Homo sapiens: one gene and its partners. The protein of the gene in region 3 purifies or fractionates together with the protein of the main gene of each other region. This does not show direct contact. Each region holds a gene or a part of one and is shown on either strand. Other genes may lie near its edges.

Region 1 (4,880 bases), on a different chromosome or scaffold from region 3:
TGACCCACTACCAGGCGTTTCTGGGCCCTGGCCCTTGGAGGGACAGGGTGGGCGGAACATGGGCCTGCAGGGAGGCTCCCGCTTACTGGAGGCATGTGCTGTGTTGCTGGAGACATCCTCTGTGTTGCTTCTTGTTCGCTGTGGTTTTTGGTCTGGTGGCACCAAGGACCCTCAGTCATCTTGATGTGTGGTTGTCCAGGCCTTTTTGTTGGTCCTAAGAAGGGGCTCTGCCTTTGTGCCCCCAGGTTCCCTGACAGGAGCTGCCGGCTCGTCCCGGTGATGCCTGCAGGACGTGACTCTGGGACGGGGGGTTGGGCAGATGTGCTGATGGAAATTCTCAAGCAGGCGTCATTTCCGAGGTCCTCACCTGGATTTCCAGGACAGGAGTGCCTGCTGGGTGTCCCCAGTCCCATGCAGCGGGGGTCCTTGGGATAGCATGGAACGCTGAGCATGGGCCTGGCCGGCCGTGGTCCTGGACAAGGGCAGTGCCCCGGTGGCTGCTGGGCCTGGGACCTGGTGGGGACGCTGGGCCTGGTACCTGGTGGGGATGCTGGGCCTGGGACCTGGTGGGGAGGCCTCTGACTGCCTCCTGGTGCTGCTTCCGTCTGTGTTAGGCCTCTGGGTATTGGGGCCCCCATCTGTCTCCTCCTCCAGGCCTGTGGACTCAGACCAGGAAGACACAGGCCAGCCCCTGCCTGTCCCCCTTGGCTTGGGCTCTCACTGCCCGACCTGGCGGGAGGTTGCCTAGCCGTGAACCTTCGCACCCTGTCTGCCACCGGACAGGCTGTGAGGGGGTGTCTGCAGCACCTGCACCGGCCTGAGCATCTTCAGAGTGGGCTGCAGCTCCTGGAGGGGTCTGAGAGGAAGGGAGGCAGGTATTTTGGGCGAATGAGGAGACAGCTGGAGAGCTGGCACCCTTCCTGGCCTGCGTCCTGTGAGGACTCTGGTTGGGGACAGCAAGCTTGGGGTCAGCCTGGGGCAGAGCCTCTGGGACGGCCCCGCCCCTCGTGCCCCTTCCCCTCGCAGCTCCTGTCCTCGCCCCGCCCTCAGCTCTCCGCCAGGCAAGGTTTGGCAAGTGCCGCTGTGCGGCAGTGCCTGCTGATTGGCTGGTCTGTTGCTATGGTGCTGCCCAGGGGTGTGCTTTTCCTCCCCTGCCTTCCCTGCTATCCCTGGGAGTATCTGGGGTTGGGTCATCGCTGGTGTGTGTGAGTGTGTGTGTGTGTGTATGTGCACGTGTGCATATGTGTGCGCTTCTGGCCTCTGCAGCTGAGTCCTGGCCCTCGGGGGGCCTGGCACCTCCTGGGGACAGGCACAAAGCAGCCATGATGGAGTCGGGAGCTGGGGGAGGCCCCATTGCCCCACGTGGCTGCCCTGTGACTCTGGGGTGCTTGTTAGAAGAGGTATCTGGTTCTGTCTGTGTTTAAGCAACTCCCTAAGGAATTCTTGTGGTTCCAGTTTGGGGGGCCTGTACTGTAGAGGCAAGGGAGGGGCAGGACATCCCCCAGACTCTGACTTCTGAAGCCTTTTCTGCCCGGGGCCTCTCCGCCAGTACAGGCAGTGTCCTTTGCCAGGGCTGCCATGCTGCAGAGGGGAGTGGGCCACTGTTTAGCCCAGGAAAACCTGGCTCTCCCTTAGCTGGAAGTTCTGGGCCTGTTGTGGTTGGCAGGGAAGCTGAGTGACGGTGCTAATCACAGGGGCACCTGCAGGGGTTTGTGGGAGATGCCTCTGTGGGTTGGGGCGATAGGCTGAGGGGCTGTTCTTCCCTGCCCTGAGGAGGGCTGAGTGTAGCCGCCACTCCTGTCCTGTCTTGGGCTGTCTCGGAGAGGATGCGTAGAACCCTCGGGATCCTGCTGGCCTCCGTCTGGTCCACCCTGAACCTCAGGCCTTCTGGGGGCAGAGGAGGATTCCCTCAGGATCACTCGGGTGGGGGCCTCTCTTGGGCACCTGAGACCCTCAGTGGGTGCTTTGTGGCGCGTTCACGGTTGGTGGGGGACGCCCAGCCCTGCCCGCCGTGTAGGAGCCGTTCTGTCCTGGGCATCCCCCTGTGGTCTGGGACTTAGTGGACCCTGAGGGTGTGTGTTTACCCCTGCCTCACACCTGCAGAAAAAAGCCTGGAGCAGGAGCTGGCCAGCCCCATCCTGGACATTGAGGACTTGGTCAAGAGCGGAAGCAAGCACAGGTGAGACCCCTCAGTGAGGCCACGACCACTGTCCTTCCATGGCCCAGCTCTCCTGTGACCTGTGGAGGCCCGGATATATTTCTTCACTTTTCTTTGTTCCTTTTTAAATTATGAAACTAACCACCATTCAGTACGAAAAAGTTTAAGCAGCTCTGAGGAAGATAGAGTAAAAAATTGTCTCCCTCTTCCCTGGCCCTCAGCCATCCCCGGTGGCCACCGTGGAGTGTGGACGGAGCCCTGCAGGCCTGTGTCTGTGCGGAAGCACGCGCAGTTTTGTCTGCACAGACTGTCCTGCAGTTGGCTGTTTTCACTCAGCGTTGTGGGTATAGCTTCCCATGCTGGTGCTGGCAGCTCGGCCTTGTTCTTTTGAGGACAGCAGATGTCTCCTATGTCTACCTCTTACAGCTTCAGAGATTCAAGTTATAATAAAGCTCTTCTTATATTGAGGGGGAAACCTCCCTCCCCCTTTTTTTTGAAACAGGGTCTCGCTCTGCTACCCAGGCTGCAGTGCAGTGTCACAGTCTTGGCTCACTGCAGCCTCAGCCTCCCAGGCTCAAGCGATTTTCCCACCTCAGCCTCCCAAGTAGCCGGGACTGCAGGCACACACCACCATGCCTGGTTAATTTTTGTATTTTTTGTACAGACAGGGTCTCACTCTGTTGCTCAGGCCAGTCTCCTGAGCTCGAGAGTTCCACCTGCCTTGGCCTCCCAAAGTGCTGGGATTACAGGCGTGAGACCCCATGCCTGGCCAGCTCTTTTTTTTTTTTTTTTTTTTTTTGAGACGGAGTCTCGCTCTGTCGCCCAGGCTGGAGTGCAGTGGTGCGATCTCGGCTCACTGCAAGCTCCGCCTCCCGAGTTCACGCCATTCTCCTGCCTCAGCCTCCCGAGTAGCTGGGACTACAGGTGCCCGCCACCACGTCTGGCTAATTTTCTGTATTTTTAGTAGAGACGGGGTTTCACCGTGTTAGCCAGGATGGTCTCGATCTTCTGACCTTGTGATCCGCCCACCTCGGCCTCCCAAAGTGCTGGGATTACAGGAGTGAGCCACCGCGCCCGGCCCAGCTCTGCTTTTTCTTAGTGGTTCTGCGTTGTGTTTGTTTCTATCCAGGAATAGGGTTGGTTTTACTTTTCCATCGAGTTTTTAAAGAGACGACGATTTACATGGTCGGAAACTCACGAGGACTCCCCATCCCTTGGTCGGAAACTCACATGGACTCCCCATCCCTTGGTCAGAAACTCACGTGGACTCCCATCCATCCCAGGCAGCAGCTTCCCACCTGGGCCCTACGTGCAGGATGAGGGCTCCTTCCGGGTCAGAAGACATGGCGGCCTCGGGGCACCGTCCCCTGCATGGGGTGCTCACAGGATCTTCTCCTCTCTCCTTCCCAGGGTGTGCCCTTACTACCTGTCCCGGAACCTGAAGCAGCAAGCCGACATCATATTCATGCCGTACAATTACTTGTTGGATGCCAAGGTGGGGGCTCAGTCCTGTAGCTGACGACTCCTGATGTCCAGGGGTGTCCCTGGGCTTGGGAACAGCTGTCCGAGCCTTTGCTGCTTCAGGGCCTTAGATCAGCAGGCCTGGGTGGGAGGACTCACCTCTGTCACTGGGCAGGGGCTCAACCTGGCCAGACACACTTGTGAGCAGCCCCAGGCCACAGGTCAGTTTTCTGAGCAGTCTGGGAGCGGGCAGGCTGGTGGGAGTGAGGAGAGACCTCCAGGCTGTGGTCCATAGGCCAGTGCCCGCTCTTGATCCTGACAGCTCAGGTTCTCTCCTTCACGTCAGGCCATGGGAGGCACCGAGAACACAGGAAGCCCACTGACTCCCCTCTTCCCAGCGCGTGCCCGGCCCCACACTCACTCCCCCTCCCAGCATGTGCCCGGCTTCACACTCACTCCCCTCTTCCCAGTGCATGCCCGGCCCCACACTCACTCCCCCCACAGCATGTGCCCGGCCTGACACTCACTCCCCTCCTCCCAGTGTGTGCCCAGCCCCACTCCCTTCCGCCCCGTGTGCCCAGCCCCACGCTCACTCCCCCCGCCAGCATGTGCCCGGCCCCACACTCAACTCCCCTCCTCCCAGTGTGTGCCCGGCCCTGCTGCCCTCCTCCCCATGTGCCCTGCTTTTGTGCCCCACACTTTTTACTTAGTGCAGGTGGGATCACACGCCACGGGTCAATGGTTTGTGTGTTCACGTGACGATGGCGTGGTGACGTTTCCAGATCCCGTCGTTGGTTCGCTCATTCTCGGGGTGTATATTTATTGAGAGCTCATCATGCTGGGTGCTATTCCAGGCATAGCAAGACTGGCTTCACTCACATGGAGCTTTGATTCTAGTGGTGGGGACAGGTGGACAGCAAAAGAGTAAGCACGTGAGCTGATGATACTGAAGGGAAATAGAGCAGAGGGAGGAGGCGGAGACCGAGCCAAGCGGGCCCAAGTGCGATGTCGGCGGGAGGTGGGGAATGCTGGTGGGTCTGAGGGGAGCCTCAGCAGGTGCAGCAGAGCAAGGGAAGAGGTGAGTGGGGGCGGCTGGGGGGCCGACTCCTGGGAAGCTGTAGCAGAACCCCACAGAGAGCTGGTGAGGTTTGCCGTGGTTGTGGGTGACTCGGTGCTTTGAGCCCTGGCTGCCCCTGGGAACCATCTGGAGAGCTTCTAACCCAACCAGGCCCCTCCCTGGGACAGTTATATCACAGCTGGT
Region 2 (5,492 bases), on a different chromosome or scaffold from region 3:
TTGCAATGAGCCGAGATCGCACCACTGCACTCCAGCCTGGGTAACAGAGTGAGACCTTGTCTCAAAAAACAAACAACCTCAACTGGAACATTTTTCTGTGAGTATAAAAGAGAATATCATTGTCTTTGGAGACACATGCTACAACTTACTCCTAAATGGTTCAGAAAAAAATATATATCTATAGTATACATATTTTATATATATAATCTCTCCTACACACTAATATAGCAAATATAGCAAACTGTGAACTTATGTGAAGGGTATACAGGAGTTCATTAATTCTGAAACTTTTTGATAAGGTTGATTTTTTCAAAATAAGTCAAAAAATTTTTTTATTTGAAAACACACTATAAACAGGGAGAAGATATCTGCAACACCTACAATTAACAAAAGAATGTTTCATTATATATACATATATACATTATATATACATTTATATATGTACACACACACACATCCTTAGAAGAGGAAGAGAAAACATGAATGAATAACATATTTCAAAGTGCTCAGCCTTATCAGTAATTACGGAATGCAAATTAAGACAAAAACATGGTATTTATTCTGGGTAGACTAGCAAAAAGTAAGAAGTGTGAAAATAACGAGGATTTAGAGAGAATTGTGGTCGGTACTGGTGGCAGTATAGATTGGTACAACCACTTTGAAAACATTTCTGCTTTATCTTTGAAAGCTGAACAGCCCCCATAGCCTCTGATGCCGCAGTGCTAATCCTAGGTTCAAATTAGAGTCCAGCGCATGCACAGAAGGTGAACAAGAATGCTCCTACTAGCCTTATTAGTAATTACTAGGGGCAGATTCAGGTTTTATGGGGTATGAGCTTATATAATTGGAAAAGAGGAGGCTTTTAAAGAAAAAGATTCAGAATGATGAATACAAATTAGGTTCAAAAGTGACTAATTTTTATAATGGCAAAAGAAATTACAACAATTAGAAATGTCACAAAACCCAGGAAAAGAGTTCTGTTATAGGTATGTGACCTACGAACTTGGGAAGTCTGATACATTTAGTCTGTGTGGTTCCCATCAATAAAGAAAATACTTAAAGTGCATTTATAATCCTATCCGCTACAGTATTGAATACATTCCTGACAGGAGAAAACTTCCTTTTGACTAGGCAGTAAGAAATAAATGTTCTGTTACTACACGTAACAACTTGGATGAACCAAAAAAACAAATGTTGAGTGATAAAAAGCGAATTCCAGGCTATATGTATTTTTATAAAGCTCAAAAAGAAGAAAAATACACCAATACACAGGAATGCATCCAAATATGATAAAACCACTAAAAATGGCAAAGAGGGACAAAACTGAAGATAGTGGTGGTGAGCTAAGAGGCCAGGAGTAGAATCCTGGAGATGCATAGATACATGCTAAATACTGATAACGTGGTGGAGTGATAGTTTCATTAGCATACTTTAAATTTTACATATTTGGTAAATATGCTCTTTTGAATGCATCGACTATTACACTGAAAATATTTTTAAATACTTAAGGCACCTGAATATAAGCTGGCTTCCCTCCTTCCTCTCCCGTGCTGTCTCCTCTCCCCCATCACTTCTCAACTACAAGCTGCTTGGGACACGTGGCTCCAGAGGTTGGCAAAACAGGGAAATGTCAGCCCACAAGGAACAAGAACCGTGACTTGTGTTATTTTCTTGTTGGTGTTGGGGTGGGGGGAGGGGTGCGGTGGTGCAGGAAATATTATCCAGCTTATCATATATGCCACATCAAGCTGACTCCGTTTAAATTTTGAGTGGCTCTACTAGCTAAAGCCAGAAAAGGGTTTTTGGGCCCAACGGGCAGAAGTGCCCCTCCCTTTTACACTCACACTTCCCACTTTCTAAGGGTGCCAGGCCCCCGCGCCGCCCTCCTGCTTCTTTCCGGACGGTCCAACTCTTTTCCACCAGTCCCAGCCCATTCGATTACGTAAATTCTTCCAAGAGGATTCCCAAACGTGCCCCTCCGTCCAGAACTCGCCCAGCCCGGACCAGTTCCGAGATTTACCACCAGCCCAGAGCTGGGCGGGGGCGTGGAAAACGCGAGGAGCCTTCCCGCCCCTCTCCTTCTCCCTCCCTCCCTCCCAAGCCACTGCCGGCTCCCAGCCGAGCTCCGCCCCCGCGGTGGCCCCGCCTCCCCGCCGCCCGGAAAGCGGGCTGCGGCCCCCTCCCAAAACCCGGGGAAGTGGATTCTACTCTACGCTCCGCTCCGCTCCGCTCCGCACCACCAACCCCGGGCCGCAGTCCTGACGAGCGGGTCAGGGCTTGTCGGGCGGAAGCCTGGCCTGGAGCCTGGAAGGGGGAGACGGCCCGAGCGGGAGCGGGAGCGGACGCGGCCTCAGTCCTGCGCGGGTGAGCGTGCCCCGGAAGCTTGGGCCCCTGGCCGCCCTGGTGCCCCTTCTCCGGGACCTGGGGCGCTAGGCCGCGGCGGCAGAACTGGTGCCCCTGCGCGGCCTTCCTCCCATCCTTACAGTTCCCCGTGTCCCAGGCCTCTACCCGGAACCGGAGCCCCGCCCGTCTCCTAGCAGCTCCGTGACGTGAAGCGCCTCGGGGTGCGGTGCCGCCGGGCGTGGGTGGGAGGCAACGCCCGAGGGGAGGGCCCGCCAGTGCACGGGGGTGCGGGGCGCGTTGGCGAGAATTGGAGGCCGCGCCGCCGCCAGCCGTCCGCCGTCCCGCCCAGCAGGAGCACGTTCCCTTTCGCCATTGGAAGACTGAGTTCCAAGCTTTTTCCTGCTCACCTAGAGCCGTCCCTGCCCCGCCCGCCACCCCCTGTACATTTTCGGAGATTTAGGATAGTAATTCTAGACCCTCGGTTGCATTTCTGTTGGAATTTTTCTGGAAGTTGGAATCTGGCAGTTTAAACAAAGAATTTTTTTAAGAAAAATATTTATTAGTATATTTGATAGTCCCCAGATTAGGTTAAAAGCCTTATTCCCAATAACTGTAATTTTGCAAAGACATGTTTTTGGTGTAAAAAGGTATAGATATGGGTTGATGAAAAGAATCAAACTCTGAAAAATATTTGAAGAGATTTATTTTGAGCCAGATTCAAGTGACCATGGCCAGTGACAGTCCTCAGGAGGTCCTGAGAACATGTGCCCAAGGAAATTGGGGTACAGCTTGGTTTTATCTATTTTAGGAAGGCGTGAGACATCAAATACATTTAAGAAATACATTGGTTTAGTTTAGAAAGGCGGGGCAACTCAATCGGTAAATGTAAACGTTATCTGGTTGAGGTTATCTAAAGACCTGGGATCCATAAAAAGGAATGTTCAGGCTAGAGATAAAGGATTGTGGAGACCAAGTTTTATTGTGCAGAGGAAGCTCTTAGATAGACTTTAGAGAGAGCAGGTTGTAAATTGTTTTATATTGGACTTAAAAGGGTGCCTGGCTCTTAGTTGATTATCTCCTGGATCTGGGAAGGAAGGAGGGAAAACAAGGGGAGATGGGAATTCTCACCAAATGCAGATTTTTCCTGCAAGAGACTTTGCAGGGGAGTTTTAAGGTACGACAAGGAAATATATTTTGGGGTAAAACATTTTTATTTTCTTCCTTGTTAGGCCAGAGTCAGATTGGAAAGTAAGTCACGATATACAGGGTTAAATAAAACCCATCTGATGAGAATTTATGGTTTGTAGGGCATGACTCTCCAGACCCCTTAGAAAGGAATTTGGGTAAGATAAAAAATTAGAGCTTAGTCCTCGTATGGTTGAGAGCTTGTGCTCTGGATCCACAGTGCCAGGGTTGTAACACTTAAGAATTGTGTGAGCTTGGACAAACCACTTAATTTCTTTTCTTTTTTTTTTTTTTTGAGACGGAGTCTTGCTCTGTTGCCCAGGCTGGAGTGCAGTGGCGCGATCTGGGCTCACTGCAAGCTCCGCTTCCCGGGTTCACGCCATTCTCCTGCCTCAGCCTCCCGAGTAGCTGGGACTACAGGCGCCTGCCGCCAACGCCCGGCTAATTTTTTTTGTTTTGTTTTGTTTTAATAGAGACGGGGTTTCACCGTGTTAGCCAGGATGGTCTTGATCTCCTGACCTCGTGATCCGCCCGCCTCGGCCTCCCAAAGTGCTAGGATTACAGGCGTGAGCCACTGCGCCCAGCCCAAACCACTTAATTTCTAAGTGGCTCAGTTTCTTCTGAGTGTATATAATGTGTTTTATACACACACACACGTTTTTTCATTATGCTATGTTATGTATATTACTATATTATTTTTTCATTATGCTATACTATGTATATTAGTCTTGTGTATATTACTCTATGTAATATACCTAGTATAGCATAATGAAAAAATATCTGTATATATATATATTAGGCAATGCTAACTGCTTTACATGGTTGTGAAGATTAGGTGAAGCACTGTGCTTGGCATATAATAAACACTAAGTGTTACTTATGAAAATAGCATTTTCTCTATGATTTGTGGCTTTGATTTTAAAGATTCTAATTGTGAAGTATTTCTCCTGTTTTCTTTTTTGATGCTATAATAGAAGGATTTACCCCAGAATTTCTATAATATCTGATACTTCAAAGTGCAAATAATCAGTAAACGGAAATAGACCATGTGTACAAGGCTATGTTGAGCAGTGTGCAGTGTTACAACACTGCTATGTGTGAGGAAGAGGACTCCATCTCTTCATCAGTGGAAGCTGGCGAATGGAAGAAAAGCTTGATATAAAGAGTGTCATGATGTCCTCACTATTCCTTTCAGGCATAACCCCAGGACACTCACTGTGTTGCCCAGGTTGGAGTGCAATGGTGAGGTCTTAGGCTCACCGCAACCTCCGCCTCCTGGGTTCAAGAGATTCTTCTCCCTCAGCCTCCCGAGTAGCTGGGAATACAGGTGTGCGCCACCATGCCCAGCTAATTTTTGTATTAGTAGAGACGGGGGTTTCACCATATTGGCCAGGCTGGTCTCAAACTCCTGACCTCGTGATCTGCCCGCCTCGGCCTCCCAAAGTGCTGGGATTACAGGTGTGAGCCACCACGCCTGGCCTTTTTAAAAATTTTTTTGAGACAGAATCTCACTGTCACCCAGGCTGGAGGGCAGTGGCACGATCTCGGCTCACTGCAATCTCTGCCCCCCGGGATCAAGTGATTCTCCTGCCTCAGCCTCCCGAATAGGTGGGATTACAGGCACATGCCACCATGCCCAGTTAATTTTTGTATTTTTTGGAGAGATGGGGTTTCAGCATGTTGGCCAGGCTGGTCTCAAACTCCTGACCTCAAGTGATCTGCCTGCCTCGGCCTCCCAAAGTGCTGGGATTACAGGGGTGAGCCACCGCACCTTGTCCTTAATCATATGGTACTTTATATGTGAACTTTATTAATGGTACAATAAATCTCATTATATAATTTCCTTAACAGAATATTGAAGGATGTTTGTTCCAAGATCTCTAAAAATCAAGAGGAATGCTAATGATGATGGCAAAAGTTGTGTGGCTAAGATAATTAAACCAGACCCAGAAGACCTTCAGTTG
Region 3 (5,343 bases):
TGCCGCGGGAGGAGCTCGCTTTGCACTGCTGCCTCTGTGGGTCCCCGTCCTACAATTGGTCCCCGCAGACCTGATATGTCTAGGACCCAGCGGTGGTCAGGAGGCGGCTTTTTACTGACCCGTGCCTCAGTTTTCCCATACATAAAATCAGGTTGGGAACCCTTATCCCGCCCCACTGTAGGCTGACGGGACTTGGAGCTGCGGTGCTGGGGCAGCCTGAGACTCTGACTTGTCCAGATGGCCCAGCATGCGTTGGTTTGAGGCTGAGGGTCCCACCTCAGAAGAGGCCCGGTCACTGCCAAGGGGTGCGTCCTGGCAGGCCCCCAGCCCTCTGCACAGGAGCCTCGCCTGTAACATGGGGGTGTGGCCCTCCAGATGCAGGCCGACCCTGTACCCACCTTGCATAGACACCCTTGGCCCTGTAGGGCTGTGGGAACATCACGGCGTTCTAGCGGGTGGTGCTGGGCCTGGTTCCGCCTACCATCCTCCGGTCCTCCTTTTCCTCAGCGCCAGAGCCGGAGCAGTTAATTCCCGCCTCATAAGGTTCACCCAGCTCACCCGTAGGTTTCGCGTTTTCATATCTCCACAGCTGTGCCACCACCAATGTGTCCAATTTTAGAACGTTCATCCCCACTAAAAGAAGCCTGTCCCCCTCAGCGGTCACTCCCCGTCCCCTTCTCCAGCCCCGCTGCCCACACACCCGCTGCCTGTGTCTGTGCACTGGCCTGACCTGGACATTTCATGGAAATGGGATTACACACTGTGTGGCGTTTTGTGTCTGGCGTCTCATGAGTGTGACATCCTCAAGGGGCATCCACACTGTGGTGTCAGAACCTTGCTCCGTTACACAGCTGGGTCATGTTCCTGTGTGTGGATGGTGGAGGGACCGCATTGCTTTTATTTTTTTATTTATTTTTATTTTTCATTTTATTTATTTATTTATTTATTTTGAAACTGAGTCTCGCTCTGTCTCCCAGGCTGGAGGGCAGTGGTGCGATCTCGGCTCACTGCAAGTTCCACCTCCCGGGTTCATGCCATTCTCCTGCCTCAGCCTCCCAAGTAGCTGGGACCACAGGCGCCCACCACCACGCCTGGCTAATTTTTTGTATGTTTTTTTAGTAGAGACGGGGTTTCACTGTGTTAGCCAGGATGGTCTCGATCTCCTGACCTTGTGATCCGCCCGCCTCGGCTTCCCAAAGTGCTGGGATTACAGGTGTGAGCCACTGCGCCCGGCACCATGTGTAGTTTTCAAACATGCATGGATGTGAATTTCATGTCTTCTGGGTCCACACCCAGGAGTGGAGTTACCGGGTCACAGGGTGGCTCTGTGACTCTTGGGGGAGCCCCTGGACTGTTTTCTGTAGAGCTGTCTCAGCTCAGGTTCCTGCCGCTGCCTGTGAGGTTCCGATTTCTCTGCGTACTCGCCCGCACCTGCGACTGTCTGTCTTCTTGACGGACGCCCTGGCTGGTGCGAAGTGGCATCTCACTGCGGTTTGCTTCCACATATTTTTAAACTCACTGAGTGCATGGCCCTGTGGGAGGAGGGGAGGCAGGAAGGCCACTAGAAGCCTGAGCTGTGCCCCCAGCTGGCGCGTGCAGAGGCCGGGCAGGTGGCGGCTGTGGTTGCAGCAGGATTAGTAGGAAGTGAAGAGGTCGCCTTCCCTGGCACCGCATGTGCCTCGAGTTCACCTGGAGGCCCTCGAGAGGGGCGGGTTTGGGGGCTTTGCGCGGGGCTTAGGGAGGGGCTTTCTTTAGCTGGGCGGCCCAGAGGGTGTTCCAGTCGCTTCTGCCTGCCCTGGTGACCCCTGGCTCTCCAGCCCCTCCCCATGTCCTTGCTGGCTGGGCTGGGTCTCCGTCGGGAAAGGTGGGGGCCGCTGGTGGGGTGGGGAGCTGGAGACTCTGACTACAGATCCCTGTGATCGAGGGGTGAAAGGTGGGGGTGACTGGTGGGGGGGGCAGCTGGGGACTGACTACAGATCCCTGTGATCGAGGGGTGAAAGGTGGGGGCGGCTGGTGGGGTGGGGAGTTGGGGACTCTGACTACAGATCCCTGTGATTGAGGGGTGAAAGGTGGGGGCAGCTGGTGGGGTGGGGAGTTGGGGACTCTGACTACAGATCCCTGTGATCGACGGGTGAAAGGTGGGGGCGGCTGGTTGGGGGGGGCAGCTGGGGACTGACTACAGATCCCTGTGATCGAGGGGTGAAAGGTGGGGGCGGCTGGTGGGGTGGGGAGTTGGGGACTCTGACTACAGATCGCTGTGATCGAGGGGTGAAAGGTGGGGGCCGCTGGTGGGGTGGGGAGCTGGGGACTCTGACTGCAGATCCCTGTGATCGAGGGGTGAAACGTGGGGGCCGCTGGTGGGGTGGGGAGCTGGGGACTCTGACTGCAGATCCCTGTGATCGAGGGGTGAAAGGTGGGGGCCGCTGGTGGGGTAGGGAGCTGGGGACTCTGACTGCAGATCCCTGTGATCGAGGGGTGAAAGGTGGGGGCCGCTGGTGGGGTGGGGAGTTGGGGACTCTGACTACAGATCCCTGTGATCGAGGGGTGAAAGGTGGGGGCCGCTGGTGGGGTGGGGAGCTGGGGACTCTGACTGCAGATCTCTGTGATTGAGGGGTGGGAGCTTCTGTCCTGGAGCCTCCGAGCCACCACATTGGCAGCTGGCCTGTCGGGGGGACACAGCATGGGAAGGCCAGATGCTCCTCCCTCCATCCCAGGGAACAGCCCAGCCTGAGCCTGGGCCATGTGCCTGCGTGTGAGGTAGGGGCACAGAGGGGCACGGGCTGGCCCCCGGTTGGCAGAAGTGGGGGATCTTGGGCTCAGCGGGGTCTGGGGGAGCGGGGGCTCCAGGTTGCAGAGGCCTGGGGGGAGTCTCAGGGGCCCAGAGGGGTCTGGGAGGGGACTCCAGGTTGCAAAGGCTGGTGGGGGCAGGGGGCTCTCAGGCCCAGTGGGGTCTGGGAGGGCCCCGGGTTGCTGTCATCACCAGTTGTCCGAGAGTGATCAGCCCAGTGTCCATGGTGCCCAGCGGGAGAGATCCTTGATTAAACATCCCACCAGTTTTCTGGTTCTGAAACCGAGAGTGTGAAAAATGCATCTAATGGCCAGGCATCGTGTCGCTATGACAGCGGCCAAGGGGCTGCATGTCCAGGTGTGGCTGGTCCTCCGGGGAAGGGGACAGGCTCCATCCAGCTGCTGTGCTGGTCCAGGCCCAGGGCCTTTGGTCTCCAGCACTGGGCGCCGCTGTTCTGGGAGCTGGAGCTCGTGGAGAGACGATCATTCCAGAGGGGGCCGCAGCAGAGGAGGAGGCTCCTGGGATGGCTGGGACCCAGGGTCGCCTGGCTTCCTCCTGGTTACCGGACCCTCCCCGACAGGGGGCTCCCTTTGCTGTGTCTGTGAGATGGGCAACACAGGGTGTCCCAGTGTCCCCAGGCTGCCATCCTCTCTCTCTGCGTGCCAGTCCCTGGGAATCTGAGCAGGGCCAGTGGCCGGGCCCCCTGACTGCTGTAGTCCAAGGGGAAGGGTCCCTCTCGCTTCACCCTGTCCTGGGTCTCCCCAGGTGAGTGGCATCAAGGCGCTGTACGAGTCGGAGCTGGCCGATGCCCGGAGAGTCCTGGATGAGACGGCTCGAGAGCGTGCCCGGCTGCAGATAGAGATTGGGAAGCTGAGGGCAGAGTTGGACGAGGTCAACAAGAGGTGAGTGGTCACGGCTGGGCACGACGTCACCCTGATCCTGGCACCACGGGGTGGACGGGGGCAGGTGGGCGCTGGGCTCGTGCGGGGCATGCTCTGATACGGGCACAGCCTGGAGCTCACAGCTCCCATCCTCTCTCCCCCACCAGTGGCTGCCACGTCACTTTTTCTGTTCTGAGGAAAGTGATAGATGCTCACATCGGACAGCAGGAAGCGCAGGGCAGCTTAAGCTCACAAGTAAAATCTCCCGCGAGCCTCCCCAGAGAGGGCTTCCTGGTCAGCCTGGCCTGTCTCCTTAGTGTGCACACGCGCTTGCACATGCTTACCTAGACCCCGGGCGGCACCCAGTGGACACCGTGAGACGCGTTTGACCTCAGGCCCCATCGTAGGCATTTCCCTGTGGTTGGATGTTCTTGGTGCCGGGGTTTTGTCCCAGCTGTTGGGACGCTCGGGTGTGTGGTGTGTGACCAGGGTGCTCATGGGTTGTTGGGCTGCCCCAGGGTTGGCTGCAAAGTCCTTCTGGGTGACAACTGTGTCCATCGGCAGAAACGATCTCCCCTCTCAGCCTGGCAGTGAGTCTTGCCTGATTCTGGGCGTGGGATGTGGTTGGGCGGCAATTTAAACAGAACGATGATGACAAAAGGAATATTTATTCAGAGGAGCCAGGAGGCCAATGAAACACTGAGCTCAAGGCTTTTCTTGATGTGAGGCTCCAGCTAGAGCGAGGTCTCTGGTGCCCTGCGTGTGGACACTGTCTTCCGTGGTCTCCGGCCACCGGCATTCAGGCACCTGCAGGTGCCTCGGATTTCCTCAGGCTGGGGTGGGTCAGGGTCTTCCCACACTGCTCATTCTCCCAGAGCCACGCAGGCCTGGCTCAGCATGGAGGGATCTGCTGGCAGGAGGGGTGGCACCTCGGCCACCTGGTACGGGGGTGACAGCAGCCAGTGGCTTGAGAATCCACGTTGTCCCTGAGTTGGAGTGTGGCCAGAGGAATGACCGGGGACCCTGTGTCCAACAGTGCCGGGGCCCCCATGCGTGGTTGCAGGTGACCTCTCCATCCGACGCCCTCCTCCTTCCTGGGCTGGCGCTGCTCCCGTGGAGAGCTGACTTCCCTTCCCCAACAGGAGACCCTCCAGGTCAGCCCAGGGACCACCGCCCGCCTGCCCGGGGCCTGGGGCTCCAGGAGGGACCATTTGTGCCCTGATGGTGGCCATGAGCCGGGGACCCTGGGGCCAGGCACCAGCCAGGACAGGCTGCCCACTCTCAGCACATCCCACACAGCACAGGTGCACCCCGGGACCTGCTCAGGCAGCAGCTCTGTGCTGTCTACCTCCAGCACCCACCGTGTTTAATAAGCAGGTTCATCAGTGGAGCCATGCAGGCTGTGGGATGACTAGAGCTTGGTCAGGGGTGCACGGAGCTCTGAAATGTCAGAACTACACCGTGCAGATGGGACAGAGCTGCTGCTGGCCCCGCACCAGGCGCCTCTCAACTGTTCACTTTAAGATGTTGAAATGTACAGGATGTGAATTTCACCTCAAATTAAAACATTAAAAAAAGAAAATGGTACACAGTGCCCGCCCTAGGTGTTGAGGAATTCCCAGTTCACAATCTCCTGAGCAGTGCGTGGCATCTACAGAGAGGCCCGTCTTTTCC
Region 4 (3,998 bases), on a different chromosome or scaffold from region 3:
TATTACTTATGCAGTATTCCAGTTAAAAATGCATAACCATGAAGAAACATTGGAGAAACCCAAATTGAGAACATTCTATAAAATAACTAGCTTATATTATTTTAAAATGTTAATGTTGTGAAAGACAAGGACTGAGGACTTTTTCCAGATTAAGAGACTAAATACAATACGTGATCCTAGACTAAATCTTGAACTACAGAAAAATGCCATAAAGGACATTACTGAAACAACAGATATAATTTGAGTGTGAGGTGTAGATTCAGAATATATGCTTAATATTTACTAAACTAGAAGAGCTCTCATTCCAAGAATCCACACACTCCCACCACATCTGAGGATATGCCCTTATACAATACACCTGAGAAGAGAAACTGACAGAACTAAATGATTAATATGTGCTAATAACAGTGTCTAGAGCACTAAAGATAAAAATGAACAAATTAGGCCAGGCGCGGTGACTCACGCCTGTAATCCCAGCACTCTGGGAGGCAGAGGCGGGCGCATCATGAGGTCAGGAGATCAAGACCATCCTGGCTAACACGGTGAAACCCCGTCTCTACTAAAAAATACAAAAAATTAGCCAGGCATAGTGGTGGATGCCTGTAGTCCCAGCTACTCGGGAGGCTGAGGCAGGAGAATGGCGTGAACCTGGGAGGCGGAGCTTGCAGTGAGCCAAGATCATGCCACCGTACTCCAGCCTGGGCGACAAAGTGAGACTCCGTCTCAAAAAAAAAAAAAAAAAAATTAACAAATTAAAACACTGGAAAGGTTTAGAGAAACCATCATCACTCACCTTACTTTAGGGACAAATACATGAATTTGGGTCCTTGTGATTTTTGATAAAGATTTCAAGTTTCTATTATTGAACATAAAACTAGATTCCAAAGGAAATAACTAGAAGAGTTACCGATAAAAAATTTAGATTCTTAATTTTTACACAAAATATCTAAAAACACACATTATACTGTCTTTTGAATTTTAATGACACTAATAGCTTTATTTAACAAACACTGAGTGACTACTATGTGCAAAGCACTATGCTAGGTGCATGAAAGATACAAAGATGAAAAAAGACACAGTCCCTGCCCACAAGGAGCGTATAATCTAGTGAGGGAGACAAATACACAAATAACTAGAATACAAGGCAGTAAACAAGAGTGGGCAAGTGCTGAGTGTGGCCTGAGTGTGATACTAACTAGCCTCAAGGTTCCAATTTGAAACACGATGAAATAGTGTTGTCTGCTTCGAAAATCCCATCCCAAGTTTGGCATAATGGAAGTTAAATGGCCCTACCCAAACAGGTGGAAATAACAGAGTAGGCCAGGTGGAGGCGCTGTTTGAAAGTACTATCACACCTACATACATGGTGCTGATATAAGTACGTAGGTACAGCTAAAAAAGAACTTATATATATATATATATCATATATATATATATCATCTGTCCTTTGGTTAATGGCTATAGCTACTGTTTTAAACAATATACTTTTATATAAAAAGGAATTTGTATAATCCCAGAAAAATCAATTTAAGGATTAATATTAATTCAAGAAAGAATCCTGCCATAGGCAATTTTATTTACTAATTGATTAAGTCTTTTCTCTAAATATCTATAAAGCTCTGTAGCAATTAAACAGTTAGACATCTAAGTATTGCTGAGTAGAAACCTCTTATGTTCAGCCTTCTGAAATAAATGGTCACATACCTGATATATAGCACTATTCTAACAGCAACAAGAAGGCCTTAAAGAGATTTTAAGAAAAATAATTTTTAATGCTTCAATGCAAATGGAGTACACGCTGATTAAATACAACTCAATGTTCTTTGAAAACATCTCAATGACAGCGTTTGATACCAGTTAAGGCCAGCAAAATTGTACTGAGGAAAATATTATTACATGTACTGTCTTTCATTGGTTTCATGTATCATTGCTTATGACTATGGCAACCAAATCTTTTCTTTGACAACTGCATTTATGGGAACTGATGAGCTTTGATTTATGAGCTTTGATTTGCTTTTAGTTCATAGGCCAATAACAAGTGCTGACCACCTCCTCTTGGTAGTGCTGTCTGAAATAACTGGCAAAGTAGAAGCACATTTCCTGGCTCCTTTTCCCACTTCCTGAATTGGAGGGTTCACCACCTTAGCCTGTTTCCTTTCGTGTGTCACTGTGGTCCTGGGTCCTCTGCTGCTTTCTCTCAAGGAAACGAGCCCGTGCATCAGATATGGATTTGTCATCATTTCTTCTTTGCATTTTCTTTAAGACGTCTTTCGATATTCCATCTGAAAACATTACAAATTAATCCAATAAAACTTAGCTTTGAGATTCAGTACTAGAAATGTTAAGAGAAAGAGAAGCCCTGATTTTTCAGTGTTAACAAAGTAAAAACAATAAAGAGAAAAATTAAATTTTGCCCTTTCAAAAGCAATGTAGTCTATGGTTACAAAATTAAGAGCACCAAGGCCAATGAGTCAGAAAAACTGACCCTAATTCAAGCATGTGGCAGTGTTATTACACTGTAATAGAACACCTAGTGGCTAAGATTTCTTTTCTTTTTTTTTTTTTTTTTGAGACGGAGTCTCACTCTGTCGCCCAGGCTGGAGTGCAGTGGCGCAATCTCGGCTCACTGCAAGCTCTGCCTCCTGGGTTCACGCCATTCTCCTGCCTCAGCCTCCCGAGTAGCTGGGACTACAGGCGCCCGCCACCACACCCAGCTAGTTTTTTGTATATTTAGTAGAGACGGGGTTTCACCGTGTTAGCCAGGATGGTCTCGATCTCCTGACCTCGTGATCCGCCCGCCTTGGTCTCCCAAAGTGCTGGGATTACAGGCGTGAGCCACCATGCCTGGCCTCCCTAGTGGCTAACATTTCTAAAGATTTTTCTATGATTTATTCGGCAAAACTCTTCACCATTCCATTTTGCAGTGATGTCAAATAAAGAAAATACAATATGCTTCATCATTCAGCCTCAAAAAGCTTTACTAAGAAGTTTTCTGTGTATGTGAGCTGAAAAACTTTCTGTCCTATTTCAGTACCACAACTATTTATGCCTCCCAACCAGGGTCCTAATTATTTCATAGAAAAAGCCCCTTGGATATACAAACTTAGCCAGGCGTGGTGGTGCATGCCTGTAATCCAGCTACTCAGGAGGCTGAGGCAGGAGAATAGCTTGAACCGGGAGGCAGAGGCTGCAGTGAGCCAAAATCACACCATTACACTCCAGCCTGGGCAATAAGAGCAAAACTCCGTCTCAAAGAAGAAAGAAAAAGAAAGAAAGAAAGAAAAAGCCCCTTGGAAACAAAGGGGATTCTGAGTTAATAATGCATAAATCATCACTTTTTTTTTTTTAGAGATAGTGTCTCACTCTGTCACCCCCAGGCTGGAGTGCACTGGTGAAATCACAGTTCACTGCAGCCTCAAACTCCTGGGTTCAAGCGATCCTCCTGCATCAGCCTCCCAAGTCACTGGGACTACAGGTGCACACCAACATGCCTGGCTAATTTTTATTTTTATTTTGCTAGAGATGGGATCTCACCACATTGCCCAGGTGGGTCACAACATTTTTATAAACAAAAATAGTGAAGTACTACTGGGAAGCAGTATGGCATAGTGGTTAAGAGTAGAACAAATGATTTACTCACCCTTTAGCTGCTTTACATTTTCCTTATTTGTCCATCTCCTTCTTGCATCTTCTCTCACTTCACGTCGGGCCACACTGCTCAAATCATGTGCATTAAATTCATGCAACTTGGGTAACAAGTCTCTTACCCATTCATAACGGATTGGGCATACAATTCTTGCGTAGACTTTGGTGGTAACCAATACCTCATGAAAAATGATCCATTCAAGTTTGGTTTCCTGTTCATGAAGCTATACAAAACATTTCTTTTAATGATGGTAACTCAATAACCTGCCCTATTCCACATTAAACCAACCAAATAGTCCAAATCCTTCTCAATTAATTCCTATCTTCTTCAAACAGGAGGCACAGGCCAACCA

What was found. The genes of interacting proteins can lie anywhere in the genome.
Region 1: the proteins of LMNB2 (region 3) and RTEL1 purify together in Homo sapiens (affinity purification with mass spectrometry; one large-scale study listed by BioGRID and IntAct). This does not show direct contact.
Region 2: the proteins of LMNB2 (region 3) and DDX59 purify together in Homo sapiens (affinity purification with mass spectrometry; one large-scale study listed by BioGRID and IntAct). This does not show direct contact.
Region 4: the proteins of LMNB2 (region 3) and DHX40 purify together in Homo sapiens (affinity purification with mass spectrometry; one large-scale study listed by BioGRID and IntAct). This does not show direct contact.

The regions. Positions count from the first base shown.
Region 1 is NC_000020.11:63,663,901-63,668,780, forward strand, and holds part of RTEL1 (regulator of telomere elongation helicase 1), read left to right. Parts: intron 1-2,103; coding exon 2,104-2,179; intron 2,180-3,568; coding exon 3,569-3,653; intron 3,654-4,880. UniProt on the Homo sapiens protein: A probable ATP-dependent DNA helicase implicated in telomere-length regulation, DNA repair and the maintenance of genomic stability. Acts as an anti-recombinase to counteract toxic recombination and limit crossover during meiosis.
Region 2 is NC_000001.11:200,666,639-200,672,130, reverse strand, and holds the start of DDX59 (probable ATP-dependent RNA helicase DDX59), read left to right. Parts: upstream 1-2,223; 5' UTR 2,224-2,364; exon of another isoform or gene 2,365-3,517; intron 3,518-4,365; exon of another isoform or gene 4,366-4,770; intron 4,771-5,190; exon of another isoform or gene 5,191-5,285; intron 5,286-5,379; 5' UTR 5,380-5,390; coding exon 5,391-5,492.
Region 3 is NC_000019.10:2,442,751-2,448,093, reverse strand, and holds part of LMNB2 (lamin-B2), read left to right. Parts: intron 1-3,553; coding exon 3,554-3,690; intron 3,691-5,343. UniProt on the Homo sapiens protein: Lamins are intermediate filament proteins that assemble into a filamentous meshwork, and which constitute the major components of the nuclear lamina, a fibrous layer on the nucleoplasmic side of the inner nuclear membrane.
Region 4 is NC_000017.11:59,605,317-59,609,314, reverse strand, and holds the end of DHX40 (probable ATP-dependent RNA helicase DHX40), read right to left. Parts: intron 3,870-3,998; coding exon 3,641-3,869; intron 2,283-3,640; coding exon 2,143-2,282; 3' UTR 970-2,142; downstream 1-969. UniProt on the Homo sapiens protein: Probable ATP-dependent RNA helicase.